Regions from separate parts of the Homo sapiens genome. Here regions 1, 3, 4, 5, 6 and 7 are each linked to region 2. Evidence: fine-mapped QTL for protein levels in blood plasma. Region 2 holds a variant in brackets. A gene starts in each other region. All regions are shown on their reverse strands.

Region 1 (4,064 bases), not on the chromosome of region 2:
AGGAAGAGGCAACGGAGAGGTAGATTGGTAGATCAGGGCTGTAATCAATGCATAAACAAGGGGTGGTGGGGAAATGAGAAGGGAGAGATTAATTCCCACTCAAATCCAGGAATGTCTTTTAGAGAATGTGACATTTTGGTTGGGGTTTGAAGGGCCAGGGAGGGTCAGCAAGGGAATATGGGGGACTGGCATGACCTGTCCACCCTCCCAAAGCAAAGTAAAAATAGAACCTTGGTTAGTGCTTGCTAAATATTGGTCCTGAAGACAGAACACTCACATTCTCCCTCATTCCCGCTGTCTTATATACATAGACCTATCAAGACACACCCATAGATAACCACAAATGCAAAAACACAGAAAATACACAAAAACACACACCAGTACACATGCACAGATTATTAAGACACAATATATGAAAATAGATACTAGCTCCCATACTCATAAACTCACACAGATACATACAACACTCATACACACAGACTCACAAACATGTTTATGCATTCATACACAGCCTCCCCCACCCACTACTCATGCAGGAAAATAAATGCATGCTTTAATTAACATACACGGGTTCACACATAAATCTCATCCTGCTGGTCTGGTTGAAGACCAATGACTAATGGGAAACCATGCACAAAGCCAAACATCACGTAGGGGAGGCCGGGATTGGGTTAGCAGTGGGGCTTGAATTAAGCCCCATCAGATGACAAACCCGCCCTGCCTGGCTTCCTCTGGAAGCTGCTGAGCCGAAGCAGCAGCGCCTGACCTAGCTCTGGATCCTGGGCGGATGATGCGAGGCTGCGTGCCCGAATTCCAGCTTGATTCAGGGTTTAGTGTCATCCAGGGTCAAGCTCGGCTATTAGCCCCACCCCAACCCCTGCAACCAGCCGGAGGCTCTGGGGGCACTGAAGGGCTGTGGCCTGGGGCTGCTTTCTAATCCTGGGCTTGCCCTGGCGCAAATGCTGAGAATAGTTAGCATTAATGAGGGTTACAACAGTGGGCCAGGCTCTGGGCTAAGCCCTTTACGTCCATGACTTAATTCTCACAACAGCTCTGTGAGGGGGGTGGGGGGTGAGGGGTGTCCTATCATCTCCATTTTAGTGGTGAAAAAACCGCGCTCAGGCCACAAAACCATTCAGCAAAAGACATCAAGTTGAGGTTCAACCCTGTCTGATCCTATTCTTCCCGGGGTTTAGGTAAGTGTGCTTGCGAGCCTGTCTCCTCCACGCAGGAAGCTTGCACCTTCTGCCCTCAGGGGTCTCCACCGCCCGGTCCCGCCCCCTTGTCCAGTCTGGCACAACACCTGGCCCACAGCAGGTTTCTGGTGAGGGCGTGGGTCTCGGTTCAGGGAGGCCCTCAGCAAGGGCCTCAGCTTCCCCATCTCTGAAATGGGAATGGCGGCAGAGACCTCGCAAGGCTGCGACCAGGCTCTCTGGAGCAGCAGAGGGCATGCCAAGCTCTACATCGTCGCTGCCGCTGCCCTCTCCCATCGCGGGGTTCCCGCGCGGTCCCCGCCCGAGCTGGGGTGCGGCGCTGGCGCCCCATTGTTCAGGAGGGCGGGGATGCTCCCGAGTGCTGATTCCACCCCCCGCTCGTGCTCGCAGCCCGGTGGAGCAGATGACTAGGCCCGGCGTCTGCCGCGCGGGGCGCATCCTTTGTCTGCTCCGCGGCGCCCGGTGCCCGAGGCCCGCGCCCCACTCTTTGGGCAGACAAAGCCGGGGCCGCCGCGAGCCCGGCGGGCTAGAGCTGGGCTCGCACCACCCTTCTCCCGCCTCACGGACCGCCCCCTCTCCTGGACGTCCTCTGATTGGCCTACGGGGCTACAAAGAGGCCGGGAAGCGGGCGGATCACGTGGGCGACTGTGGCTTCCCATTGGTTAGGCGCGGCTGCCAATCGAGGAGGGCGGGCGGTCCGCGCTCGGTCCGGTCGCTCCCTCCGCGCTGGGGCCCGCCCGCGGGGCCGGCCGCCTGTCAGAGGGAGGTGGCGATGGTGCGCCCGGTGGCGGTGGCGGCGGCGGTTGCGGAGGCTTCCTTGGTCGGATTGCAACGAGGAGAAGATGACTGACCAACCGACTGGCTGAATGAATGAATGGCGGAGCCGAGCGCGCCATGAGGAGCCTGCCGAGCCTGGGCGGCCTCGCCCTGTTGTGCTGCGCCGCCGCCGCCGCCGCCGCCGCCGTCGCCTCAGCCGCCTCGGCGGGGAATGTCACCGGTGGCGGCGGGGCCGCGGGGCAGGTGGACGCGTCGCCGGGCCCCGGGTTGCGGGGCGAGCCCAGCCACCCCTTCCCTAGGGCGACGGCTCCCACGGCCCAGGCCCCGAGGACCGGGCCCCCGCGCGCCACCGTCCACCGACCCCTGGCTGCGACTTCTCCAGCCCAGTCCCCGGAGACCACCCCTCTTTGGGCGACTGCTGGACCCTCTTCCACCACCTTTCAGGCGCCGCTCGGCCCCTCGCCGACCACCCCTCCGGCGGCGGAACGCACTTCGACCACCTCTCAGGCGCCGACCAGACCCGCGCCGACCACCCTTTCGACGACCACTGGCCCGGCGCCGACCACCCCTGTAGCGACCACCGTACCGGCGCCCACGACTCCCCGGACCCCGACCCCCGATCTCCCCAGCAGCAGCAACAGCAGCGTCCTCCCCACCCCACCTGCCACCGAGGCCCCCTCTTCGCCTCCTCCAGGTGAGTCCGGCGCTCCCTCTCGGGCAGGACCCGTCCTCACCTCAGCCCCGGCAATCTAGGGTTGGGCTCTTGCCTATAATTTATCGTTTGTTACCCCAAAGACACCCCAGGTTCCGGCTCCCGAGGGGGGATCCCAGGTCCAGCTAGTCTCCCTCCCGCCCCCGATCAATCTGGAAAGTCTTTTGTCCCCCGTGGGCTGTGCTCCCTCGGGAGGGGGTGGCTGCTGGGTGGAAGGCATCTCATCTTCTTCCCAACAGGGCTTTCTGGCCTTTTTCAGAGACCAGAATGGGCGCAAACTTTTGGGTTGGGTTCGCGCACCCAGCCTCTCTGCCTGGGTTATTTGGGGAAGTTTGAAAGCCCGCATAGTACCTCCTTCAACCACTGGGTCAAAAGCTGAGGGTAAGGAATTCCTCCCAAAGCTCCAGTTTCCCTGTTCATTTCTTCTTGTTTATGTAAATATCAGATGTGTGTGTATGACAGGTGGAAGAGAGGTAGTGAGAGGATTTTGTTTACAAACAGTAGTATGGACCACTTGAGGGCAAAAAATAAAAACAAAAAAGGCATTGTAATCCATGTTGTCCCTGCAAATAAGTGGATTCAGTAGGTCATTTGGGACAGGTGTGTATCTAGGCTGAGCACATTTACAAATTAGGTTAAATCTCTTCCTCGCACCATTTTTTTCTTCCACAATTATAAGGTCAACATGTTTGGCCAAATACACCATTTAAGCAAGGATGCCTATTTTTGTCTCCTTAAGCCAGGATGTTCAACTTTGCTGATGCTGATATATGCCAATTTCTGTTTGAGCCCACGTAGAAAAGGCTTTTCTTGCTGAAGTCTTCAAGCAAAGTTAAAGACAACTCGTATTCTTTCCCCGTTTAAATCTTAAGTGGGCCTAGGACTAAAACAAAACAAAACAAAAGCCTACTTTGTCAGAACGTTTGGACAAAAGTTTCTGAATTGTCTTGCTTTGAGTTGGGGTGGAGGTTTGTCCAAATCCTTTGTCTAGCTGGGTCTCTGACCTAAATCTTAGGCTTAGTGATTTACTGTGGAGTCAGGTATGGACTTTGGACTATAATTGAGTGTGTAGAGAATTTTCCCACATGGTTATGAACCTTAATACAGTCTTGATCCTTGGGTTGGAGCTTGGCAATGACATAAGTAGGATTATTCACCCATAAAAAGCCAAGTGTGCATCTCTTCCAGCTTCAAGGAATGCATTAGCTAGCTGGGTTTTACCTGTAACCCCTTTTGGCTTTCATATAGAGAGATTGACATATTACTGAGAGACAGGAAGCATAGTGGTTGAGAGTATGGACTCTGGAGTTTATTCTTAGGTTTGAATCCTAGCTCTTCCCCTTGTTAGCTGTGTAAGCTTA
Region 2 (4,064 bases):
AGCATTCTGAGGAGGAAAAGGAAGGGGCCAGGCGGAGGGCTGTCTGTTTTCTTGGCTCATTGGCTGTTCTCAAAGCAGTGGTTCGCCACTTTGCACATTAGAATCACCTGGGGAGCTTTTTCAAACTAGGGCTGAACCATCCGCAAAGATTGTATTAACTTGCTTTGGGTGGGGTTGAGTCATGGAAGGTTTTTAAAAGCTTCCTAGGAAATTCTAGTGCACAGCCAGAGTTGAGATCATAGGCTCCACGGTTGGGCAGGAATTTATCATTCTCAGCAGGGAGGAGGATGGTGGCCCCAGTGTTGGAAGCATCTGTGAACTCTATACCCCAAGAACTTCCTAGAAATCAAACAAGCTCAAGCCAAAAGGAACCTCCTGTATCACCTGGACCAGATATCCCCAATCCTGGTTATACACTGGCAACACCTGGGTAGCTTATAAAATGCCCCACCCCAGATATTCTGATTAAGTGGTTCTGGGATGGAGTGGGGGCATCAGCATCTCTTATATCCATCCTCTCAGGTTGATTTTTTTTTTTTTTTTCAGACAGGGTCTCACTGTGTTGCCCAAGCTAGAGTACAGTGGTGCATCATGGCTCACTGCAGGCTTGGCCTCCTGGGCTCAAGCCATCTTCCCACCTCAGCCTCCCAATTAGCTGGGGCTACAGGCGAGTACCACCATGCCTGGCTAATTTTTGTATTTTTTGCAGAGACAAGGTTTCGCCATGTTACCCAGGCTGATCTCAAACTCCTACACTCAAGTGATCCACCCACCTCAGCCTCCCAAAGTGCTGGGATTACAGGTGTGAGCCACCGCACCTGGCCCAGGTTGATTCTAACGTGTATCCAGTTTGGGAACTACTGATATAGTCCCAGACTCTCAGTTTACAGATGAAGAAAATGAGGCTCAGAGAGGAGCAGTGACTTGCCCAAAGTCACACATCATGCTTGCTCCAGAGGCAGGGCTAGAGCCCAAACTCCTGACCAGGGCTATTTCCATGCTGTAACCCCTATGGTTTGCAAAATTATTTCACATATATTACCTCGTTGGCCTATATCTTGCCAGACTGCATTGCTTCCTGCCACCATCCTCTCATTTCGCAGAAGATGAGATGGGGCTCAAAGAAGTGACCTGCCCAAAGCCACACAGTGGCAGGATCCAGAAAAGAACTCAGGTCTCCTGACTGCAGATCATGGGTATGGCCTCACCCAACAATGCCCATGGCCAGTCATCTGCCTGCCAAGTTCCAGCATGTGAGGTTTTCCTGAGCCTCAACACCAGCAGCTGAAGGTTTGGACACCTCCAGAGGCCAGGCTTCCTGAGCCTCAACACCAGCAGCTGAAGGTTTGGACACCTCCAGAGGCCAGGCTGTGCAGAAATCTCACAGCGGACAGTTGCCTGGTGCCCTGGAAGTTCTACTCACCGATAACCCCTTACCCACCGTTCTGAGCATACTGAGATTTCCTGTTTACAACAGGTTTGCATCTGTTATCTCCAATGGTGTGTTAATGACAATCCCCATTTTACCAAAGGGCAGACGGAAGCTCAGAGAGCTTTGAGGACATTGTCTCAGGACCAAAGCTAGCCTAGAACCAGAATCAGGTCTTTGGACTCTAAGGCCAGCCCCTGGGGCCTGGGGGGCCTGGGACCTGCCTGCTTTGTGAAAGTTTTCCCACCCTGCCTGAACAGATGGCCAGAAGAGCTTAAACCAGAGATTGGGGCAGGGTGGTGTGTATGTGTGTGCCCCAGTTTGACCAGCTCTGGTTTCTGGTTACCTGCTGCCAAAAAACAAATATTTCCCAAAGTGGTAGGTGCAGGAAACAGACCTCACTTCTTTAAAGCCCAAAGTAGGCAAGCCATTTCTACCTTCCTCCCTTTTTCTCACCTAACCATTTGAGGATAACAGTGATTAAATGCCTGCTTTCTGGCCAGGCACAGTGGCTCACGCCTGTAATCCCAAGTTTGGGAGGTCGAGGCAGAAGGATCATTTGAGGATAGGAGTTTGAGACCA[G/C]CCTGGGCAATACAGTGAGATCCCCATCTCTACAAAAATAAAAATAAAAAATAAGTCCGGGTGCCATGGCTCGTGCCTATAATCCTAGCACTTTGGGAGGCCGAGGTGGGCAGATCACTTGAGGTCAGGAGTTCAAGACCAGCCCAGCCAATACGATGCAACCCCGTCTCTACTAAAAATACAAAAAAAATTAGCTAGGTGTGGTGGCGCATGCCTGTAATCCCAGCTACTCAGGAGGCTGAGGCAGGAGAATCGCTTGAACCCGGGAGGCAGCAGTTGTAGTGAGCCAAAATCACACCACTGCACTCCAGCCTGGGCAACAGAGTGAGACTCTGTCTCAGAAATAAATAAATAATAAAAGCTACTTTCTCCTTGTCTACACCCCCTGATAGTCGCTAGACATAGGGAGCTGGGCCTTGAGGAAGGGCCCAGGATGACCTGTCATTTATTTTACTTACGAAGCACTGATACAACTCGCTGCTCCAAGTGCTCTGAAACATTCATTAACTCATTTCAATTTTCACAACAGCCCTATGGGAGAGGGGAGGGCACTGCTCCTCTCCCCACTCTAGAGATTAGGAAATAAAATACAGACAGGTTAAGTGACTTGCTCAATGTTACACAACTAGAAAGAGGCAAAGCCGGGATTTGAACCTAGGCAGTCTGGCTCCAGAATCCACGTTCTTGACCACTGTGGTTTACTGGGCAGCATTTGCCTGAGTGTCTGGTGCTACACCAGTCTCACCAGGGAGACTCCTAAACACACTGCAAAGTGACACCTCATGCTCGACTGGCTCTTAAATCCAGATGAAAGAGTGTAAAACACTAACCATTTTCTGGGGTTGTCACGGTGTGTGCAAGTCCACATGGACGCCCATTTCAGGACCTCGCCACCACCTTCCACCTTCCTTCTTGCATTCACTGCTGTGATTAGAGTCTGCACGCCACCTGCATCCACTCTGGCAGTTGGTATTGTAATCCCCCATTGTACAGGTGAAAACACTGGGGCTTGCGGAGGGCGTAAGTGACCACAAAGCTAATAAGTGGCAGAGCTTGGAAGTCAATCCCCTGCTTCTGCTCATTACATCATTTGCATCTTTCCAAGACCCCTCAGGAGGGATTCTGCAGGAATTGTGGCCGCTATTCTGGGAAACGGAAGGTGCGAGTCACGTGATCAGTGTGAGAGTCCAGGCCTCTTAACTTCTGAGCGGATTCTCTTCCGCCTCCTGCTTCCACCATTTGTCCATGTCCATTGCTACCATTCCAACACCTCGGTTCCTGGAATGGAGGGACACATTTGACTGCTGAAACCTGCTCAGTGTAGACTCTAGCATCTCCAAAAAGCCGGGTAAACTCTCAACCCAAAGGAGAGAAGCCAAGTCTTGCTCAGCAGCTATTTTAGGGCCTGAGAGCTCCCCCTGCCCCTCTCGGGATGTGGGGATGTCGGGATGTCGGGATGTCCGCAGAGCCAGTTTTACCCTCCCGTGGGTGCGTGGTGGGACCAGTCACCGAGGGAGGCAGCGCCCGGGTGCAGGTGGGCCGTGTTCTGATGGAGCTGGTGGATGGCAATGCCAGCCAGAGAACTCGGTAATGACGGGAGCCAGCATGGGCGAGCACTCACTAGATGCCAGGCGTCGCTGTATGTGCCTCAAGCCCCGCAACCACCTGGGCTGTGGGCTCTAAGGGGCCCTCAGAGCTTCGCTGCCCTCGGAAGTGATGGGATCTGAGGAACACCTATCACCTAGATTGACAGGGCACTGGGCCATGGCCTTAGGGTCTGCTGGGGTCCAACCATAGCCCTGAGATCCTGGGTCCTGCCCTCTGTACCCTTGCCCAATCTCCATTTTGCAATCCATCAGCCTGACCCAGTAAACATCTCTAGCCCGAAGAGAACCCATCTTCCTGACCCTTTTCTATGTGTTTCGAAAAAGAGCCCAGGGGTGTGGGGGAGGGAGGGGGCCTCAGGCATCTGATGGGAGGCTGGGAGAAAGCCACTGAGCTCTGGTAGGCTGCCTGAGTGCCAGCCACTTTACCCAAGCTTCCTTACCAGTAC
Region 3 (4,064 bases), not on the chromosome of region 2:
TTTTTAAAGAAACAAGATACTACAGTTAGAGTAGAAGCTTCCTTCCATCCCATGACCATTCTTCTATTTCCTGAGGTGACTAATATTCTGAAGTTGATCTGTATTTATTCCATTCACATATTTTATATGATACACCATGTATGATTATCAAATTGTTTTATGTGCATTTTAAGAGCTACACAAATGGTAGCATTATATAGTTAACACATCAAGTTCTACGTTTTTCCCTTACATTTATGTTTCTGAGATTCAGTCTTGGTGATACACATAAGCCTAGTTTGTCCTTTTTATGAGTATACAAGAAAATATAAATTCAGTGAGAGCAGAACTTTATTTTATTCACTGCTCTGACCTAAGTAACTTGAGCAGAATATTTCTTTAATGAAGTAGTGAATTTGAGAGAATGAGTTAGTGTATATAAATGAATGAATTAATGTACAAATGAATGTGTGCTATTAGCTTATATTTTTTCCTATTTCTGGCTTTGTCTGATTTTGACATTAAGGTTATTCTGCCTTCACAAAATGAACTGAGTAGCTTTAAAACATTTTGTATAAATGTATATTTATTCCGCAGGATATGCTAAGGTCTAGCACTTTCCTCTGGGTAGATCTTGATGAATGATTTGATTTCTTTAATGTTATAGTTCGATTACAGTTTCTGAAAATTTTCTTCTTGAACTATTTTTGGTAGTTTATGTTTTTCTATACAATTATTCCTGTTGTCTCCATTTTTAGATTTAATGGTGTATTAGTTTACTATTGCTACTGCAACAAATAACCATAAATTTTGTGGCTTAAAACAACACACATTCATTATCTTACAGTTATGGAGGTCAGAAGTCTCAAATGGGCTAGTAGATCCTTTTTTATGCCCATTCTAGCTTCCAGAGATTGCCCACATCACTTGGCTTGTGTTTGTTTTTACTCTGACCCTCCTGCCTCTCATTTGTAAGGGCTCTTGTGATTATAGTGTACCCACCTGGATAATCACGATACTCTCCCCATCTCAAGAGTCTTAGCTGAATTGCATTGGCAAAATCCCTTTTGCTCTGTAAGGTAACATACTCACAGGTATTAGGAATTAGGATTCGGACATTTTTTTGGGGGGGCATTATTCTATTTACCACAATTGGTATCATATGTTCCATTGTGTTTTCTCCTGCCTCTCTAGATGTGTTGCTTTAAAAAAATTCAGGCCGGGTGTGATGGCTCACGCCTGTAATGCCAGCGCTTTGGGAGGCCGAGGCGGGCGGATCACGAGGTCAGGAGCTCAAGACCAGCCTGGCCAACATAGTGAAACCCCGTCTCTGCTAAAAATACAAAAAAAATTAGCCGGGCATGGTGGCGGGTGCCTGTAGTCTCAGCTACTTGGGAGGCTGAGGCAGGAGAATCGCTTGAACCCGGGGAGGCGGAGGTTGCAGTGAGTCGAGATCGCACCACTGCACTCCAGCCTGGGCGACACAGCAAGACTCTGTTTAAAAAAAAAATTCAGAATGTGTTTATTTCTTCCTCTATCATTTTCTCTTCATTAATTTGTCTATTTTATTAGCTATGCCCTGACAGTTTTGACAGGGTTGTGGGATATAGTAGAAAGGTTGGAAAGGCATGGACAGCCGTGCTGGGAGTGCTGTTCGAGTAATTTTCTGCCTCCAGTCATTTCCCACTACTTCATCAAATACAACTACCTCACTATGCTCTGGGTGGTACGAAGTAACCCATGGTAGGATGCTTCCCAACTCAGTGTTAAAGGTAATGGTGCATCCTGAGCTTTCTCGCTCTGCATCTCAATCCTGGAACTGGTAATTCTCTATGACTGACACCTCTGAGCTCCCATTCTCTCCTATCTCTAGGGAATACCTGAGGAGGTGAGGTTTCACCTTCTTACTCCCCGCGGCCCAACCCCCGTCCGCCCCTCCCCCGCCCCGCCCCTCGCCCCCCAGAGCTGAGACCTGGGCATGCGCATCAGCCGCAACAGATTGGAGGGGACCCTGCTGCTCACTCCCCTGCTACCCTCCTCTCTTCCCTCCCCCGACCGCTCTCATATTCCCGTTCCCACCCCCACCCCCCACTCCCGCCCCGCACCCGCCCCTAGCCCGGGCTCGGGGACCTGTCAGGCTGGTTTCGACAGCTGGGGAATTAACCTGTCCCGCCCATCCCTAGCCTCGAGCCGCGCAGGCTCCGCGCCTCCGCCCTTGTTCCCTCCCAGCTCCTCCGAGTGGAAGCCGCTACAAATGGCTTGAATGAAACGTGTGTGGGTTTAGTGAGTGGTGAACCACCAGGGGATCCCGTCTCCCCACAAACCAGTATCTCTCCGAGGAGGAGGCGAAGGAGTGGGAGGAGGCAACGAGCCGAGAGTCGAGCTTCGCGGGCGCGCGCAGCGGCTGGAGCGCGGGGGCGAGGCCGGGCCACCTCCCCTTCCCGGCCGCGCACTGCCTGGCCCGCGGCGGTTCCAGGCACCACCCTTCCCGTCCGGGCTGAGCCCGCTGTGGCAGTGACTAGCTCCCGCGGCTAGCGGCACTGTCCACCGACGAGCGGCGCCCTCTTCTCCCCCTTCTCCCCACGATTTCCTTCTCTGCGGCGGCACGCCGTCCAGCAGCCTGCTTCGCCCCGTCGTCAACTTTGAGCTGGAGGAGAAGCAACTTTGGCAGTGGCCGCGGGGTTGGAATCCCGCTTCTCCTCGGCAGCAGTAGGCTCGCAAGTCGCTGGGGTTAGGTGGGGCAAGAGTTTCGCCGGCGCATCAGCGCTGCTTCGGACTGTTTGCAACGTGTTTCCAGCGAGCTGGGAGCGGGGTTGTGACTGCGAGTCGTCTGGGGGAGGGGGACTTGTTTTTCTTTTCCTCTAGAGACCTCGGCTTGCAACTGGATCAAACGCTGTCGAAAGGATGTAAATAGGCAGAGCAACTGTTACCAAGAAGGCCACCACCCCCACCCAAAGGCAGTGAGGAGTGTGGGGCTTCGTCTGGGCTCCCCCGAGTCTCAACAGTAATCAACAGTCAGGTGTTGATTGCAACTTTTCAAGGTCAGCCACCGGGAGTAGCCTATTCCCTCTAGGAACCTTGGAGGGCATACCTTGCTGGGACTCAACTTGGCTGAGAAATGCACAAGATGCCAAAGGAGGAAGGATTATAGGGGGCGTGTGTGTGACCCCCAAGACCGATCTTCCGCTATCACCCTAATCTCCGGTTCCCCGCTACCCGGGCGGGGGTGAGTATGTGACATGTGCCTAACTCTCAGCAGCAACTTCGGCAGCAGGTGTCGATCCTAACTAAGCAGGAGCTGCGGCTGCCGGGTGTGCCCTCACCAAGCCATGCGAGCCCCGGGCGCGCTTCTCGCCCGCATGTCGCGGCTACTGCTTCTGCTACTGCTCAAGGTGTCTGCCTCTTCTGCCCTCGGGGTCGCCCCTGCGTCCAGAAACGAAACTTGTCTGGGGGAGAGCTGTGCACCTACAGTGATCCAGCGCCGCGGCAGGGACGCCTGGGGACCGGGAAATTCTGCAAGAGACGTTCTGCGAGCCCGAGCACCCAGGGAGGAGCAGGGGGCAGCGTTTCTTGCGGGACCCTCCTGGGACCTGCCGGCGGCCCCGGGCCGTGACCCGGCTGCAGGCAGAGGGGCGGAGGCGTCGGCAGCCGGACCCCCGGGACCTCCAACCAGGCCACCTGGCCCCTGGAGGTGGAAAGGTGCTCGGGGTCAGGAGCCTTCTGAAACTTTGGGGAGAGGGAACCCCACGGCCCTCCAGCTCTTCCTTCAGATCTCAGAGGAGGAAGAGAAGGGTCCCAGAGGCGCTGGCATTTCCGGGCGTAGCCAGGAGCAGAGTGTGAAGACAGTCCCCGGAGCCAGCGATCTTTTTTACTGGCCAAGGAGAGCCGGGAAACTCCAGGGTTCCCACCACAAGCCCCTGTCCAAGACGGCCAATGGACTGGCGGGGCACGAAGGGTGGACAATTGCACTCCCGGGCCGGGCGCTGGCCCAGAATGGATCCTTGGGTGAAGGAATCCATGAGCCTGGGGGTCCCCGCCGGGGAAACAGCACGAACCGGCGTGTGAGACTGAAGAACCCCTTCTAC
Region 4 (4,064 bases), not on the chromosome of region 2:
CTGTGTCCCAGGGCTTTCTACCAACCCTAGTACTCGGTAGACAAATGATAGACATTTGTTGAATCAAGCTGTGAGTTGGAGATCTTTGCAGAACCATCACTGCCCCTCTTAACTTGGAACTCCCCACCCAGAGTGCCTCCCCTAAGATGATGAGGTGTCAGACTTCAGTGGCCTGAGTTCTCTGAAAGCAGAGACTCTGAGAAAGAAGACTAGTCATCAAGACCACACTAAAAAGATGTGTTTCTGTGCCAAAGACTTTACTCACAAACAGGTAATACTATCATCTCCATTTTACAGAAGGGAGGCCCAAGTCTCATAACCTCAGTCGTAAAGCTGGGATTCCAAGACTGGCTATCTGACTTTGAGTCAGATATAATCATATCTTGGTCCTCAGGGATATCACAGAGGCCTGGCATGGCACCAGGGCATGGCCCAGTGCATTGGGGTATGCCCAACAGGACCCGCAGGGGGCAGTGATGAGCCTTCTTGTTTGGATTGGGGACAAATCTGCAGCTACTTCTTTCTCAATTAAAGAGGAAGTGGGAATTTAAAAAAGACTTTCTGCCGGGCACGGTGGCTCATGCCTGTAATCCCAGCACTTTGGGAGGCCGAGGCAGGTGAATCACCTGAGGTCGGGAGTTCGAGACCAGCCTGACCAACATGGAGAAACCCCATCTCTACTAAAAATACAAAATTAGCCGGGTGTAGTGGCACATGCCTGTAATCCCAGCCGCTCGGGAAGCTGAGGCAGGAGAATTGCTGGAACCTGGGAGGCGGAGATTGCAGTGAGCTGAGATCGCGCCCAGCCTGGGCAACAAGAACAAAACTCCGTCTCAAATAAATAAATAAAAGTAAAAAAGACTTTCAGGCCGGGTGTGGTGGCTCTCGCCTGTAATCCCAGCACTTTGAGAGGCCAAGGCGGGCGGATCACCTGAGGTCAGGAGTGCCTGGTCAACATAGTGAAACTCTGTCTCTACTAAAACTACAAAAATTAGCCGGGCATGGTGGTGGGCTCCTGTAATCCCAGCTACTCAGGAATCTGAGGCAAGAGAATTGCTTGAACTTGGGAGGCGGAGGTTGCAGTGAGCCAAGATCACGCCACTGCACTCCAGCCTGGGCAACAGAGCCAAACTCAGTCTCAAAAAAAAAAAAAAAAAAAAAGACTTTCATATAGTTCTTTCCCCAGAGGTCTAGGGATGTGGACCTGTGAGGGCTGTTGTAAATGCGTAGCTCCTTATTCTCTGGGACATTTGTTGTTTTTTTGTTTTGTTTTGTTTGCTGTTTTTTTCATTTTGTTTTGTTTTCTGTTTTTGTCTGTTTTTTGCGAAACTGGTGAGTTACTAATTAATCCTCATTCAACATAGTCCCATCCCTTCCTTCCTAGGGCACAGAGATTGTACTGAGGGGAGGGCAGGAGAGAGCAACGTGCAAGTGGGAAAACTGATTCAAAATACCTTGCTTCACAATTTCAGGACAGAAAATGGATAGTGTAAGTGACCCAGAGACTTGGCCAATGTGTCTCTGTTAAATACATCCACTTTTAAGAAAGTTAGTACTGCCAGGCACAGTGGCTCACGCCTGTAATCCCAGCACTTTGGGAGGCCGAGGCGGGTGGATCACAAGGTCAGGAGTTCAAGACCAGCCTGGCCAAGATGATGAAAACCTGTCTCTACTAAAAAATACAAAAATTAGCTGGGTGTGGTGGTGGGCACTTGTAATCCCAGCTACTCGGGAGGCTGAGGCAGAGAATTGCTTGAACCCAGGAGGCGGAGGTTGCAGTGAGCCGAGATCATGGCACTCTACTCCAGCCTGAGCAACAGAGCAAGACTCTATCTCAAAAAAAAAAAAAAAAAAGAAAGAAAGTTATTACTTAATCAAAGGAGCAAGGAAAAAAAAAGGAAGGGGGAATTTTTCTTTAGACCAACTTCCTTTTCTTGAACCTAATTCTACCCCCCTTGGTGCCAACAGATGAGGTTCACAATCTCTTCCACAAAACATGCAGTTAAATATCTGAGGATATTCAGGGACTTGGATTTGGTGGCAGGAGATCAACATAAACCAAGACAAGGAAGAAGTCAAAGAAATGAATCAAGTAGATTCTCTGGGATATAAGGTAGGGGGATTGGGGGGTTGGATAGTGCAGAGTATGGTACTGGCCTAAGGCACTGAGGATCATCCTTTTCCCACACCCACCAGAGAAGGCTTAGGCTCCCGAGTCAACAGGGCATTCACCGCCTGGGGCGCCTGAGTCATCAGGACACTGCCAGGAGACACAGAACCCTAGATGCCCTGCAGAATCCTTCCTGTTACGGTCCCCCTCCCTGAAACATCCTTCATTGCAATATTTCCAGGAAAGGAAGGGGGCTGGCTCGGAGGAAGAGAGGTGGGGAGGTGATCAGGGTTCACAGAGGAGGGAACTGAATGACATCCCAGGATTACATAAACTGTCAGAGGCAGCCGAAGAGTTCACAAGTGTGAAGCCTGGAAGCCGGCGGGTGCCGCTGTGTAGGAAAGAAGCTAAAGCACTTCCAGAGCCTGTCCGGAGCTCAGAGGTTCGGAAGACTTATCGACCATGGTGAGTGTAGGGTCTTGGGGTCGAACGCGTGCCACTCGGGAGCCACAGGGGTTGGATGGGGCCTCCTAGACCTCTGCTCTCTCCCCAGGAGCGCGCGTCCTGCTTGTTGCTGCTGCTGCTGCCGCTGGTGCACGTCTCTGCGACCACGCCAGAACCTTGTGAGCTGGACGATGAAGATTTCCGCTGCGTCTGCAACTTCTCCGAACCTCAGCCCGACTGGTCCGAAGCCTTCCAGTGTGTGTCTGCAGTAGAGGTGGAGATCCATGCCGGCGGTCTCAACCTAGAGCCGTTTCTAAAGCGCGTCGATGCGGACGCCGACCCGCGGCAGTATGCTGACACGGTCAAGGCTCTCCGCGTGCGGCGGCTCACAGTGGGAGCCGCACAGGTTCCTGCTCAGCTACTGGTAGGCGCCCTGCGTGTGCTAGCGTACTCCCGCCTCAAGGAACTGACGCTCGAGGACCTAAAGATAACCGGCACCATGCCTCCGCTGCCTCTGGAAGCCACAGGACTTGCACTTTCCAGCTTGCGCCTACGCAACGTGTCGTGGGCGACAGGGCGTTCTTGGCTCGCCGAGCTGCAGCAGTGGCTCAAGCCAGGCCTCAAGGTACTGAGCATTGCCCAAGCACACTCGCCTGCCTTTTCCTGCGAACAGGTTCGCGCCTTCCCGGCCCTTACCAGCCTAGACCTGTCTGACAATCCTGGACTGGGCGAACGCGGACTGATGGCGGCTCTCTGTCCCCACAAGTTCCCGGCCATCCAGAATCTAGCGCTGCGCAACACAGGAATGGAGACGCCCACAGGCGTGTGCGCCGCACTGGCGGCGGCAGGTGTGCAGCCCCACAGCCTAGACCTCAGCCACAACTCGCTGCGCGCCACCGTAAACCCTAGCGCTCCGAGATGCATGTGGTCCAGCGCCCTGAACTCCCTCAATCTGTCGTTCGCTGGGCTGGAACAGGTGCCTAAAGGACTGCCAGCCAAGCTCAGAGTGCTCGATCTCAGCTGCAACAGACTGAACAGGGCGCCGCAGCCTGACGAGCTGCCCGAGGTGGATAACCTGACACTGGACGGGAATCCCTTCCTGGTCCCTGGAACTGCCCTCCCCCACGAGGGCTCAATGAACTCCGGCGTGGTCCCAGCCTGTGCACGTTCGACCCTGTCGGTGGGGGTGTCGGGAACCCTGGTGCTGCTCCAAGGGGCCCGGGGCTTTGCCTAAGATCCAAGACAGAATAATGAATGGACTCAAACTGCCTTGGCTTCAGGGGAGTCCCGTCAGGACGTTGAGGACTTTTCGACCAATTCAACCCTTTGCCCCACCTTTATTAAAATCTTAAACAACGGGTCCGTGTCATTCATTTAACAGACCTTTATTGGATGTCTGCTATGTGCTGGGCACAGTGCTGGATGGGGAATTCATCATACTTAGGCTTTCTTCATCCTAACTCCCTAAGAAACCCTATCTGTCCTCCTCAAGAAAAGAACTGCGGGGATA
Region 5 (4,064 bases), not on the chromosome of region 2:
AGCACCCATCTAATCAGGAACTTCTACTTTCAACTTTACATGCGTGAGAAATGAACTTCTATCATGTTAGAGTGAGTATACAGTTTTTGTGTCTGTGTTTTAGTAGCTAGTGTCACCATAACAAATATAATTCACAACAGGATATTCACTTTTCAAAATCAAGTTGGGTACAGTTTGACCAATTGGCTACATGATTAGGAAAATATCTTGATCAAATAGTTTTCTTCTAAACACTTACATCACTATTCTGTACTCACACTGTAAAGTTTTATATCAATTACTGAAAATCATCCCAGGATAATTAAGAATGAAATGAAATGGATTATCTATTTTCAAGTCTCTTCTATGATCATCTTTAGAAGATTAATTCTGAGGCCCTTTATTATGCTCTGTGGTTTCAGGAAATCCTTACACGGCGCCCTTGAGAGCTTTCATACTGCAAGTCATCCATTTTCCTCCCCTCAAACCTGGCATCGGAGTTTATTGAAACAAAGCAAAATAAAACAAATAGACAAAGCTCTACCTCCATCACTTCTGCAGTCTACATTAACCCCACGTCCAGAATATTCACACCTCAGGTCTTTTTCTCACAATTGAAACACTGGTTCAGAGCCTAACGGAAGGTCTTGGAGGTAAAAACACAACTTGGGGCAACTTTTCCATTCTGTTCTGCATGACCCCAATGGGACTTCTCAGAAACCCCTCTCATGAATTAAACTTTGTTCTGTCTAGAGCATTAGAATAAGCTTATGGGCACCTGCCAGGAGATTATAAAGTGGGCCATTTAAAAGATGACAGATATTGAGCACCCTTGACCCTGTAGAAAGAGTGTACCTACTTGCTTTCCCTAGGGCCCTTAATGGTTTATAAAAACAAGCACTCACTGATTCAAAAAATATCCTCATTCCACAGTCTTGCCATGCCTTCTTTCTGAGCACATGGCAGTCAGTCTCTAGCACATCCAGTGTAAGATAGAACAGAGATCCCAGGCCACCCTGTGGGAAGGGGTAGAGAAATGCAATACATTTCACAGGAAGTAGAAACCTAGAAAGACCACACAAAAAAACCCCTGCTTTATGGCAAAGCCAAAGAATATTTGTGAAGATTCCCCGTAAACCATTAAATCTGACACAAGTGTCAGAGTAGGATCACTGTTAACACTTGTTTTTACTAACAATAAGTGCGTTGTTGCTGACCCTGGCAGAGGAGAACAGAGAGTTCTCGGCAGGGCTTCCAATACAGAAAACACCTGCCAGGGTGTCTCTGGGTTCCCTCACCCTGGCCAGTCTCTCCAGCTTGCCCACATCCCTGCCCCAGAGTGGGAACTGTCCCTACTTGCCCGTCTGTATTCCTGGGCGTCGTTCACTCGGTTGAGTCTCAGCACATAGCCATCCTTTCTGTCTTTGTTAATATCCCGCAGGGCAAAGCCTGCAACTGCCAGCACATCTGAGTCATTGCAGCCCCGGGAGAGCAGAGCCGAGGGGTTGAGGGCCAGCTGGGGTGGAGACATTGCTCCGCAGCACAGGACTAGGATGCAGAGTGCCAGGGGAAGGAGCAGACCCATTCTGTGGAGAACAAGGCCCAGGATGGGTCAGTTTGTGGAGCTGCAGGGACTGGCTGGCTTGTAAGGCTCTTTAAGGCAGACTTGAGCGGTTTTGTTACAACTGGAAGGGCTAACCAAGTTCACCTTGAATTCTGAACTTGGATTTTCCTAAGTCAGTACTTTGGATAGCATTTCCCAATGATTCTAACCTTAGACCCTTGAGCAACCTCATATCCACCTGTACATACAAATGAATTTAAGTTTCCCAACTGTTTCCTGAGAAATCATAACATTTGTTCAAGGCTCTTATGATTAGATTCTGATTTGCAGGTCCCCTCCTGAATAGGAATATGGAGGACTGTCCCATTCTCCCCCTCTCCCCTAACACCTTTGCTGTGGAGGTCTCCTTGGCCACTCTAATAGTTATCTTATGTCCCAGTGGTGCTTGGTGAATTCAGACTTCCTGGCTGACACTCTGTGTGCAAAGCCCTTGTTAGATCAGGGAGGTAGTTGAACCCCACAGTCATCTGCCAGAAGCACAGTTGAGATTCCTTAAGCACTTTGGCCATCTGGGTGGAAAATGTTCTACTTATCATCATTTAAGTTATTTTTAAACAATGACTTTACTTAAGGGGAAAAAGTCAAAGAGATATAAAAAGTTCTCACATTGTATTTCAAGCCTATTCTTCCTTTTATGCATATGTATGGAAGCAAGCTCATTAAGAGACTAAAGCCCCATACTCTTGCTAAAAGAAAGATACTGAAGGGCAGGTGGGTGGCAACACATTGGTTGGGACTCTTGCCTTCTTTTTTTTTTTTTTTTTTTAGCTTCTATTTGTGATTCAGAAAGGTTCTACTTATTGGGACCATACAAAAGACAATTATCTTTTAAAAACTGTATTTCAACAAAAAACACATATCAGCAGTAGTTTGTCATGAGAGAAAAGAGACAAAATGGGAAAGAAGCCTCTAGAAGAGGTTATCATGAAGGGCATTCTATAAAGCCCTAGTCCATGAGGTGAGTAACCACCCCCTAACTCTCTCCCTACTCCTAGCCCTTCTCTTCCTTCCTGTCCCTGTCCAAGGATTCTGCATTCAAATAAGTTTAGGAACTGCTGAATCCTTCTGTGTGCTTGCTGGTACACAGTGGTGGCTATTGTGTAATGCTGAGAGGATTATCCTATCCTGATGAGGGCTCCACCCTCATGAATGGAATATGCCATTATCTTGAAAGTGAGTTCCTGATAAAAGGATGTGTTTGGTCCCCTTCTCTCTTCCTTTCACCTGTGTGATGCCTTCCACCATGTTATGATGTAGCATGAAGGCTCTCAGCAGGTATAGCCCCTCGATCTTAGACTTCCCAGCCCCCCAAACCATGAGCCAAAGTAATTTCTGTTCATTATAAATTCCCTGGTCTCTGATATTCTGTTATAACTACATAAAACTAACTGAGGCACAGCCCTAATTAATTTCTGGAGAGAAATAGTTTTTGAGGATTGATTGAAAAACCCAAATCTAAAGATCCCAGCTCTGTGGATGTGGGCTGTAGGCATTGTTTTCAAATAGGAACGATACTAGCAAAATGGGTACAGAAACCAGACATTCAGATTCTGGGGCACAACAAAGGTTTAGCTTCAGCCAGTGAGGAGACAAACATTCATTGAGCTTGAGCAACGTACAGAAAGAGGTTGAGAAGGATCTGGGGCCTGAGGATGCAGAACAAAGAGGAGGAGAATGGTCTGGGACCTGAGGAATATATTAGACTTATATAGGTGAAGGCCATGAGTGCAACTAAAATAAAAGGCAGGACTCAAACAGATAAAAAGATCCAATAACATGGAAATCGTGCACCACCACTTATGCACCTGGGTTTCAACCCAGTCTCAAACAACCTGAGCTGGCCTTCTCCTAGGCTGTGGAGTATGGGAGCCCTGGGAGAGGAAGCAGGGGAAGAGTCCAGCCTTTGGTGTCAGGCAGTCTTGGGTTTAAATTCCACCTCTTCCACTGCACGGTAAGAGGGCCTGTGACACTGGGTGTGCCACACAGCATTTTGTTTCCTTATTCATAAAACAATGGCACTCCCAGCATATGTATACATGCACAGTTGCACCTGCCTGTAGAAAGAGAATAGAGTTCCTCTTTCCCTAGAAGCCCAACCCAGGTACACTTGTGTTTGGTTCCCATCACATATGGGAACAACTTTAGTATCAGCATGGAAGTTAAATTTCTGCTCAGGAGTGAAGAACAAGGCTGTGGAGATAGATCAATCTAGGTTTTGTTGAATCCAGTGTGTCTAATAGAAATACAATGCAAGTTACATATTTAATTTTAAAATTTCTGGTATCTGCATTCGAAAAGTAAAAAGAAACAGATGATATTAATTTTAACAATATTTTGCTTAACCTGTCAATCCAAAATATTATAATTTCAATATGTGATTAACATAAAAATTATGAAAGGCACAGTTTACATTCTTTGTTTCACACTATGGCATACCCCAATTTGGAGTAGCCACAGTTAA
Region 6 (4,064 bases), not on the chromosome of region 2:
CAGTAAAAGGTGACTGCACCTTTCCCAGCCCCACCCAGTGCAGGGGACCTACAGGTGTTGTCTCAGCGGATGGCAAAACAACCCTGTAAAGTGGGCACCTTTAGGACCCCCCTTTGCAGATGGAGATGAGCTAGGTGGGGACTCCCACTTGTCCGGGTTCCTGCAGGGAGAGGGGATTTGAGCCCTGCTCTGTGTGCAAACCCAGACAGAAGGGCAGGAAACTGTATGGCCACATGCTTTCTTTGGGGCTCTCCTTCTTGTTGGCTTCCTGCAAAGTGCTCAGAAGTTCACATTCTCTTTCTCCCACTTCGGAGGCCTTGTTTTCCCCTCTCTGTCAAATGGGCGTATTCGGAGGCTTTGGGGCCAAGGAGAGCTGAGTTTTGACACCAGCTCTGCACTTACCCAAAGTGGGGCTGGGGACAGTCCCTTGTTGAGTCTCCATTTATTATTCTGATAAATAGAGATGATGGCCGGGTGCACTGGCTCATGCCTGTCATCCCAGCACTTCGGGAGGCCAAGGCAGGCGGATCATTTGAGGTCAGGAGTTCGAGATCAGCCTGGCCAACATGGCGAAACCCCATCTCTACTAAAAATAATAATAATAAAAATAGCCAGGCGTGGTGGCAGGTGCCTGTAGTCCCAGCACTTTGGGAGGCTGAGATGGGCAGATCACCTGAGGTGAGGAGTTTGCAACCAGCCTGACCAACATGGCGAAACCCCGTCTCTATTAAAAATATAAGTTAGCTGGGTGTGGTGGCTAACGCCTGTAATCCCAACACTTTGGGAGGCCAAGGCAGGTGGCTCACGAGGTCAGGAGTTCGAGACCAGCCTGGCCAATATGGTGAAACCTCGTATGTACTAAAAATATAAAAAATTAGCTGGGTGTGGTGGTGTGCACCTGTAGTCCCAGCTACTCGAGAGGCTGAGGCAGGAGAATCTCTTGAACCCAGGAGGTGGAGGTTGCAGCGAGCTGAGATCACACCACTGCACTCCAGCCTGGGTGACAGAGTGAGACTCTATCTCAAAAAACAAAAGCAAAAACAAAAAATAAAAGTTAGCCGGTCATGGTGGCACATGCCTGTAATCCCAGCTACTAGGGAGGCTGAGGTAGGAGAATCGCTTGAATCCAGGAGGTAGAGGTTGCAGTGAGCCGAGATCCTGCCACTGCACTCCAGCCTGGGTGACAGAGCAAGACTCCATTTCAAAAACAAACAAAAAAATAGAGATGATATGGACCCTACTTCAGGTTTGTTGACAGCAGTTAGTGAGAGGCTACAAGTCAGGGATTTAAGCCAGAGCCTGGTGGACGTGGGTCTGATTGGTATGCCTGTTATTAAAAGTATAGGCTCTGGCCGGGCGTGGTGGCTCATGGCCGGACGCAGTGGCTCATGCCTGTAGTCCTAGCACTTTGGGAGGCCGAGGTGGGTGGATCAACTGAGGTCAGGAGTTCAAGACCAGCCTGGCCAGCATGGTGAAACCCTGTCTCTACTAAAAATACAAAAATTAGCTGGGTGTGGTCGCGGGCACCTGTAATCCCAGCTACTTGGGAGGCTGAAGCAGGAGAATTGCTTGAACCCTGGGCAAAAGAGTGAAACTCCATCTCAAAAAAAAAAAAGTATAGGCTCTGGACATAGTTCCACTGTTTCCTACCTCCAGGACCCTGGGCAATTTATGGACTCTGCCAAGCCTCAGTTTCCTTATTTGTAAAATAGGGAAAACAATAGTACTCACATCACAGGGCTGTTGAAAGGATTAAGTAGATACACATGTGAAGTACAGTACTTACCACGACTGGCGCAGAGTAAATGCTCAGTAAATCACTCATTCACTTATTGGACAAATACTGAATGAGCACCTATTGTTTGCCAGGTGCTGTTCTAGGCGCTGAGGATGCAGCCGTGCACAAGACGGATGAAATCCCTGCCCTCAGGGGGCCGACATTTGCGGAGTAAATAAAGGAAAGGTAAATATCTTCCACGTCAGATTGAAAAATAAAGTCAGAAAGGGGATTTGCCATTTTATTTTTTGTAGAGATGGGATCTCGCTATGTTGCTCTGCCTGGTCTCAAACTCTTGGCCTCAAGTGATCTTCCCACCTTGGCCTCCCAAAGTGCTGGGATTACAGCCATGAGCCACTGCCCCTGGCCTGGTTTGCTACTTTAAATTGGGGTGGAGGGAGGGTAACAGGGAAGGTGTCTCTGAGATGATGCTGGGCAGGAGCCGAGGGGGTTGTGGTGCCAGAGCTGCTGATAGCTGTGTTCTTATGACCTGCATCCTGATGGCTTCTGAGTCCTGGTTCCTCTGAGGCCTCTGCAGCCTGCTTCCGGGCAGGGGGCCACACCTGTGCTCACCTGTCCTGGTTTGCCTCCAGCACTGTGTCCTGGGCTGCCCTCGTGGGGCAGGGCTCTAACAAGGGGGAGAAGGCCCTGAGGAGGTGCGGGTGAGGCCAGGTGAGAGGCACAGAGGATGTCCTGGCGCCTCCTGCTCCCCTCTCCCCACCTGTGACCTCACCTCACTCTTCTGCGTCCTGGCCCAGAGCACTGGGACCTCATCCCAGTATCAATCAGGATGCCTCCCTGATGTCCCTGGGCACCTCTCACTCACCTTGTCCCAAACTGACCTTGGCATCTTCCCCCAGAAGTGTATCTTCCCCTGGTGCCCTTATCAGGGAAGGCGCCACTACCCACCTCATCGCTGGGAAAAGAGACCTGGGGCCTCATCCCTGATGCCTCCCCCTACTCCCCGAACACGCCACCCCTTCTGGCAACTGACTCTACGTATATCTTCTCTCCCTCCCTGAAGCCCCTGCCCTGGTCTAGGTGACCACTCCACCACCCCACCTTGCCTGGGTCCTCCTGTCTCCCCACCAGCCTCCTCCCTAGTCTCTGGCCCTGGTCTCCCCGACTCCCATTGCCCCTCCACATGGCAGACAGAGGCTCTTTCCAAAACAAAAACCTGCCTCTGCCCCTCCGTGCTCAGAACCTGCTGTGGCTCCCCAGTGCCCTTGGGAGGAAGCCCAGGTTCCTCACTGTAGCCCAGGAGGCCCTGCCCGGCCTGACTCCTGCCCACCTGACCAGCTACATAGAATACCACTTGCTTCCGGGAACCCTCTGCTTCAGTTCTTCTGTTTCACTTGCACTCTACCCAGAATATCCCTGCTTCCCTCTGCTCTATTCCACTGCCTTCCCCAAACCCTCTCCTCCAGGAAGCCCTCCTGGACTTCAGGGCCTGGAATTCCCTGTCTCAGCCCTGACTGCCTTGGGTTCTCGCTGTCTGGGGCTGGGTCTTTTTCCCCCACTGGCCTGGGAGCCTCAGCTGGGCACGGCTGGGCTGTCACCACTGTGTCCCCAGCACTGCCCAGCAAATCACCTGGCACAGAGCAGAGGCTCACAGCATGTTTGTGGAACTGGACACCAGGTGTGGATGACACAGAGAGAGGAGTCTTCAGAGAGGCTCAGGTTCCTGGTGATCTGCTGTCTGCCTGCGGAGTGTGACCAGGCCGGGCTCTAGAGGCCCTCTATCGTCACATCCACCCTTCCTAGTCTGCCCCCATCCTCCACCTCCCTGGCCCCTCCTCTGGTGCTCCCGGCTGTGAGCCCAGATCCTTGGTTCAGTCAAGAGCTGCAGGCTCTTTAGCACCTGCTGTGCGCCGCCGGGCTGCGCAGAAAGCAGACGGGGTTCTTGTGGGCAGGGGCTTTTTCCTGTTTGTGCAGTGGGTGGGGGGTGTTCATGACATTGACTTCCCTGGGACTCTTCTGAGGATCAAAATAGGCACATGGAGTGTTCCGTGCCGGGCCTGCCTCAGAGCACGTACTGGGGGCACAGTGGTCGTTGTTCCTCCACCATTTGACAAATGTTTATGGAGCACCAACTATGTGCCGGGCACTGCGCTAGGCGCTGTGGGGTTACAGCCGTGAATACGGTAGACACAGAGCTGACCTATTGATTGGGGAGACAGTTAATAGACGAATACAAACATGAGCAGTGTTAGAACAGGTGGGGACAATGCTGTGGAGAAAAATAAAGCAGGGGAAGGGATGGAGGTGGTCGGGGCACTGGTTTATG
Region 7 (4,054 bases), not on the chromosome of region 2:
TGTGAAGTTATGCACCATTTTGAGATCATTTGTTCATTTATTCAACGAGTACTTTACTGAGCATCTACTATGTCTCAAGCACTGGGGATAGATACAAAGGTGGATAAAATGACCCAGCCGTTGCCTTTACTGAGTTTATAGTCTAGTGAGAGAGGCAAACAAAACATCCACTGCCACACACAACATATAAAATTATAACTGAGTCAGGTGTTAAGGAGAGAGGTACAAAGTGCTCTGACAGCCCTATAGCGGGTTTTCTGTCACCTGGAGACTGCCTTTTCTGCAGACAAGGTGACTCCTGAGCTGCAATCTGAAGGATGAGGAAGAATAAAGCAGTCAAAGAAGAGCAGTGTTAGGCTGCAATTCTCCATCCGCAATTCTCCAACCGCAATTCTCCATGGGTTGCCTGCATTTCCTGCACAGCTTATGTGCAGAGGCACTGGCTTCTTTGTTCTAGGCAATCTTTTTAGTGATGTTTGTACAGCAAACAGCCTTGGAAGATAGAAATAGCGTCCCCCCTCCAGACCAAAAGGCAGATTTGTTTACTGTCCAGTAATAAAGATAATGTCTCCCTTATCTTGGGCTGGCCAAGGTGAGGAAGGCTTACTGCTCATCATGAAAGATTTGAGTTCCTTAAACTAGGGATTCCTCTGCTGTGATGTAACTCATTGCATTCATGGCATCTACCTGGGCTCCTCCAACACTGCCCTTGTGAGACCTGAGGGCTAAGGGGAACTGACCCTAACATGAAGTTCATGCTGCTTGCTGTACCATGGATAATAAAGTCCTTTGTCTCTGACCTAGGAGTCTCGTGTCTTCTGCCAACATCCACGAAACTGTAGTTATGTCATTAATTTGCAAGTAGCATAAAATCTCAGATCTTTCATCGTTATTTACAGGCAAGTGGATGTCATATATAAAGGCCCTGTGGCGGGAGTCAGTAGAGCAAATATAAGGATTTAAAAGAAGACATATAAGCATGAGTGGAATATAGGGAGGGTGGGGGTCATGGCCTGAGATAAGGCTGGGAGGTGGTGAGCCTATGAGACCCTTGGCCAATCCTGCTAACACAGGCCTGGGGGTATCTTGGCCATTTGTTGTTACAAAGCTGCCTTCAGGCAGAGCATGTGGAATTAATAAACTGAGCTTGAGGGAGCATAGGACAACAAGGCTTGGGCCAATCTAAGCCTATGAAATAATTTTTAACAAAGGGAGATAGTGAAAATAGGAGGTGTTTTCTTAACATCCTGTGCTCTGTGATGAAAAATTTTGCATCTGCATGCCACTTCATAATATCACTATTAGAAATTAGAAGTCCTCCTCTCAGTGCCCCAAATGAACCAGAAGAAGCTATCATTGACTGTCATTGCTGTCAATCATCTTGGGTACAAAAGGAGGCAGTCATCTTAAAAAGGAAAAGTGATGCCTCTTTAGTATTCACCGAGCGTGATTCTGGACAAGCCACTTTTTGTCCACCTCTCTTACAATGAAGGGAAGGCACTGGCTGAGTTTTAAAGGAAGAGAAAGGGAGAGAGGGAGAGAAGAGGGAGAGAGCAGAGAGACCTCACCGAGAGAGCTGCAAAACCAGCCTGGAAAAATTAGAGTATTACCTAACATTAGTGAAAAATAAAGGTACTTTCTTGAGAAGCCCTTGGACCCATTCTGCCTCTTGGAGTTCTGAACTTTTCACTCACTGCCTATTAATTAATGTTAAGCCTGCAAAGAATGGAGTTGTCCTGGATATTTGGCCAAAAAAAAAATGTATCCACAAACAGGGACGTAATCAGGCAGGGAGCCTCGTTAAGAAGTTTTGTTCTTGTCCTAGGAGTGATGAGAGATCACTGAAGGATTTAGAGAGGGGCTGTATCATCAGGCTTGGGTTCCAAAGCCTCACTGAGAGAGTTGGGGAGCTGACTGATGTCAGATGCTCGTGCAGCCGCCCCGTAGGGCCTGTATTTCCTCCATGGTGCCTCACTGCAGCACCGAGCTTGCAAAAGATCCTCTCTCTTTATGGGAATTTCAAAACAGAAGCAAAATAGCACCGGGGCTTAAAGCATTCTTGGGAATTTCCCTGTCTTTCCCTCTAAATAATCAGCATGTAAATTGCAAAAAAAAAAAAAAAAAAAAAAAAAAAGACACGGGCCCAAAAGGGAGCGCTCAGTTTCAGGCTCTTTGCTTTCCTTCCTCCCGAGGCTCTCTGGCCCTTACCCAGCCTGAAGACAGAAAGTGTGAGGGGGAGGGTAGGAAGGTAGGTCAAGCAGGGCAATGCTGAGCCTGGGAAGAAAACAACAGCCTTGTTTAGGGCACTGTGGCTTACGTAACTAAATTGTGCCCAGTTTCCACCTGGCCAGGGGCCTGGAGTGAATGCTGAAGATGCAAAGGTAGAGGCTGCCAGAAAAGCCAGGAAATTGCTGGCAAGAAAGGCCAGTGGTGGGGTGCAGGAGTGGGAGGAAGGCTGGGAAATGCGGCTGAGTCACATCTCCAGAAGCCCCCCATCATCACCCTAGTGGCTCTTCTGCTGGCAGGTGCCTCATGAAGACCTGACCCAAAGTTTTCAAAACTCTGCGGTTTCTCAACCCTCCTCTGGTAATCCATAGTACTCCCCCGCCTCCACTTGCCAGCCTCGTGATTCCTTCATTGACACATAGCTCAGTTCCCATAAAAGGGCTGGTTTGCCGCGTCGGGGAGTGGAGTGGGACAGGTATATAAAGGAAGTACAGGGCCTGGGGAAGAGGCCCTGTCTAGGTAGCTGGCACCAGGAGCCGTGGGCAAGGGAAGAGGCCACACCCTGCCCTGCTCTGCTGCAGCCAGAATGGGTGTGAAGGCGTCTCAAACAGGTATCTGGGCTAGCCAAGGTTAATCCATCAGAGTTGTGGGTTTTCAGGCCCAGACAGCCCGCAGAGCCATCTGCCTGCTGGGTGAGGGACTAAGGGAGTGGGCAGAGGGGGAGGAGAAGCAGAGCCAGGGGAGGGACTGAGGCTGCAACCAGGAGGTGGGGGTGGGGGAGGTGGGTCTCAGTTGCTTGGGGGAGGGAGCAGGGCGGAAGGGCAGGATGCACTTGCAGGGGTCTCATCCTGGATTTCTCTTCAGGCTTTGTGGTCCTGGTGCTGCTCCAGTGCTGTGAGTAATCCCTCCACCTCCACTTTTAAGTCCAGAGGCGTGGCGAGGGCACAGGGCAGGTGTGGAGGAGGTCTTAGCTCCAAGGGAACACTTTGCCAGGTTCTTCTGTGCTTCCAATGACTTCGAAATAGTCACGTTTGCTAAACTGGAGTGAGGAGTATATGGATGTTTATTTTGCTATACTCTTTGGTATATGTGAAAATTCTCAAAATAAGAAACTTTAAAAGGTCCTGGTTCAGTGAAGGCTTTGACTAACAGCCCCTGGGAGCCGCTAGTACAGTTGCCCAGTAGCTGCTTGGATGAGTGATGCCCACATTGTTTGCAGCAGGAGAAACAGAATTAGAGGCGAGGAAGGATTTCCTGGTCCATTGTGATATTGTGCCCCAGCCTGGGGGACATGCCGAGGGAGCACAGGACTGCCATTCCGGGTGGGTTACAAGTTAGAGGCACTCTCACCAGGAGGCAGAGAAAGGTGGGCCAGAGTCCCTCATGGATGAAGGACCTCACTGCAGGTCACTAAAGGTGCCAGCCTGAAAGCCAGGGCCATCTGTGACACAGGCTATCTTGGGCCTTCCCCTCCCACAAAGCCACTGCTTCCAGGAAGCCTGCTGTGCTGGCACCAAGTCCCATTTCATCCTTATTCCCCAGCTCCTACCCTTCCCCCACACAGTGCCTGTAGCGTATTCATCCCCTGCATTGGATCTTTTCTAAGCATTTTCAGAATAGGCCTTATTTTCACCAGTCAGGGAACTCCCCAGAGGCAGGGGGACCTGAACCAGCTCCTTTCATTTAAGAATTCTGACTTTGCTCACAATCTGCACCCCACTCCTCCCTACCCAACCCCACACCCCATTGGTGCTCAGCTCTGGGCTCAGCCTGAGGTCTCTTGCCGAATCCTGGCCCGGGCCCCATCCCAGACTTCTCCTTCAGGCTC

Which allele goes with the higher level. Alleles are on the strand shown, and positions count from the first base shown. The strength of an association depends on the size of the effect and on how common the allele is.
In carriers of allele G in region 2, the plasma level of the protein whose gene starts at base 1,973 in region 1 tends to be higher than with C alone (weak association).
For the plasma level of the protein whose gene starts at base 2,493 in region 3, allele C in region 2 goes with a lower level than allele G (moderate association).
In carriers of allele C in region 2, the plasma level of the protein whose gene starts at base 2,469 in region 4 tends to be lower than with G alone (weak association).
With allele G in place of C in region 2, the plasma level of the protein whose gene starts at base 1,626 in region 5 is higher (moderate association).
For the plasma level of the protein whose gene starts at base 1,896 in region 6, allele C in region 2 goes with a higher level than allele G (moderate association).
With allele C in place of G in region 2, the plasma level of the protein whose gene starts at base 2,732 in region 7 is lower (moderate association).

What was found. PIP is the chance, under the fine-mapping model, that this variant and not a neighbour inherited with it causes the effect. Protein levels are from antibody-based Olink assays in UK Biobank. Linkage for the fine-mapping came from a reference panel and not from the study's own genotypes, which makes the PIPs less certain.
Region 1: MEGF9 starts here. The variant in region 2 is fine-mapped to the plasma level of the MEGF9 protein (UK Biobank, PIP above 0.99).
Region 3: GPR37 starts here. The variant in region 2 is fine-mapped to the plasma level of the GPR37 protein (UK Biobank, PIP above 0.99).
Region 4: CD14 starts here. The variant in region 2 is fine-mapped to the plasma level of the CD14 protein (UK Biobank, PIP 0.98).
Region 5: FETUB starts here. The variant in region 2 is fine-mapped to the plasma level of the FETUB protein (UK Biobank, PIP above 0.99).
Region 6: it holds the start of CEACAM16, and the variant in region 2 is fine-mapped to the plasma level of the CEACAM16 protein (UK Biobank, PIP above 0.99).
Region 7: CHI3L1 starts here. The variant in region 2 is fine-mapped to the plasma level of the CHI3L1 protein (UK Biobank, PIP above 0.99).

The regions. Positions count from the first base shown.
Region 1 is chr9:120,712,379-120,716,442 of GRCh38, reverse strand. It overlaps MEGF9 (multiple EGF like domains 9), which reads left to right and starts at 1,973. Exons shown (of 6, transcript NM_001080497.3): 1 at 1,973-2,685. The coding sequence starts at 2,085. RefSeq lists a silencer at 1,436-2,285.
Region 2 is chr8:125,485,737-125,489,800 of GRCh38, reverse strand. The region is part of intron 2 of TRIB1AL (TRIB1 associated lncRNA); the gene reads right to left. Among named protein-coding and RNA genes, the nearest start is that of TRIB1AL, 21 kb to the right of the region's middle. The variant G/C (reference allele first, on the strand shown) is at 2,012.
Region 3 is chr7:124,764,221-124,768,284 of GRCh38, reverse strand. GPR37 (G protein-coupled receptor 37) reads left to right here and starts at 2,493. Exons shown (of 2, transcript NM_005302.5): 1 at 2,493-4,064. The coding sequence starts at 3,309. RefSeq lists a silencer at 2,352-2,481.
Region 4 is chr5:140,631,580-140,635,643 of GRCh38, reverse strand. CD14 (CD14 molecule) reads left to right here and starts at 2,469. Exons shown (of 2, transcript NM_000591.4): 1 at 2,469-2,575; 2 at 2,664-3,912. The coding sequence starts at 2,573. The coding sequence ends at 3,788. It also overlaps a transcript of TMCO6 not described here. RefSeq lists enhancers at 2,825-3,324, 3,537-3,596, 3,325-3,826.
Region 5 is chr3:186,637,961-186,642,024 of GRCh38, reverse strand. FETUB (fetuin B) reads right to left here and starts at 1,626. Exons shown (of 7, transcript NM_014375.3): 1 at 1,340-1,626; 2 at 885-995. The coding sequence starts at 1,564. HRG-AS1 (HRG and FETUB antisense RNA 1) reads left to right here. Exons shown (of 3, transcript NR_187317.1): 2 at 1-71; 3 at 402-516.
Region 6 is chr19:44,696,983-44,701,046 of GRCh38, reverse strand. It overlaps CEACAM16 (CEA cell adhesion molecule 16, tectorial membrane component), which reads right to left and starts at 1,896. Exons shown (of 7, transcript NM_001039213.4): 1 at 1,787-1,896. CEACAM16-AS1 (CEACAM16, CEACAM19 and PVR antisense RNA 1) reads left to right here. Exons shown (of 2, transcript NR_186815.1): 2 at 1,870-2,009. RefSeq lists an enhancer at 3,724-4,064.
Region 7 is chr1:203,185,382-203,189,435 of GRCh38, reverse strand. It overlaps CHI3L1 (chitinase 3 like 1), which reads left to right and starts at 2,732. Exons shown (of 10, transcript NM_001276.4): 1 at 2,732-2,837; 2 at 3,091-3,120; 3 at 4,051-4,054. The coding sequence starts at 2,813.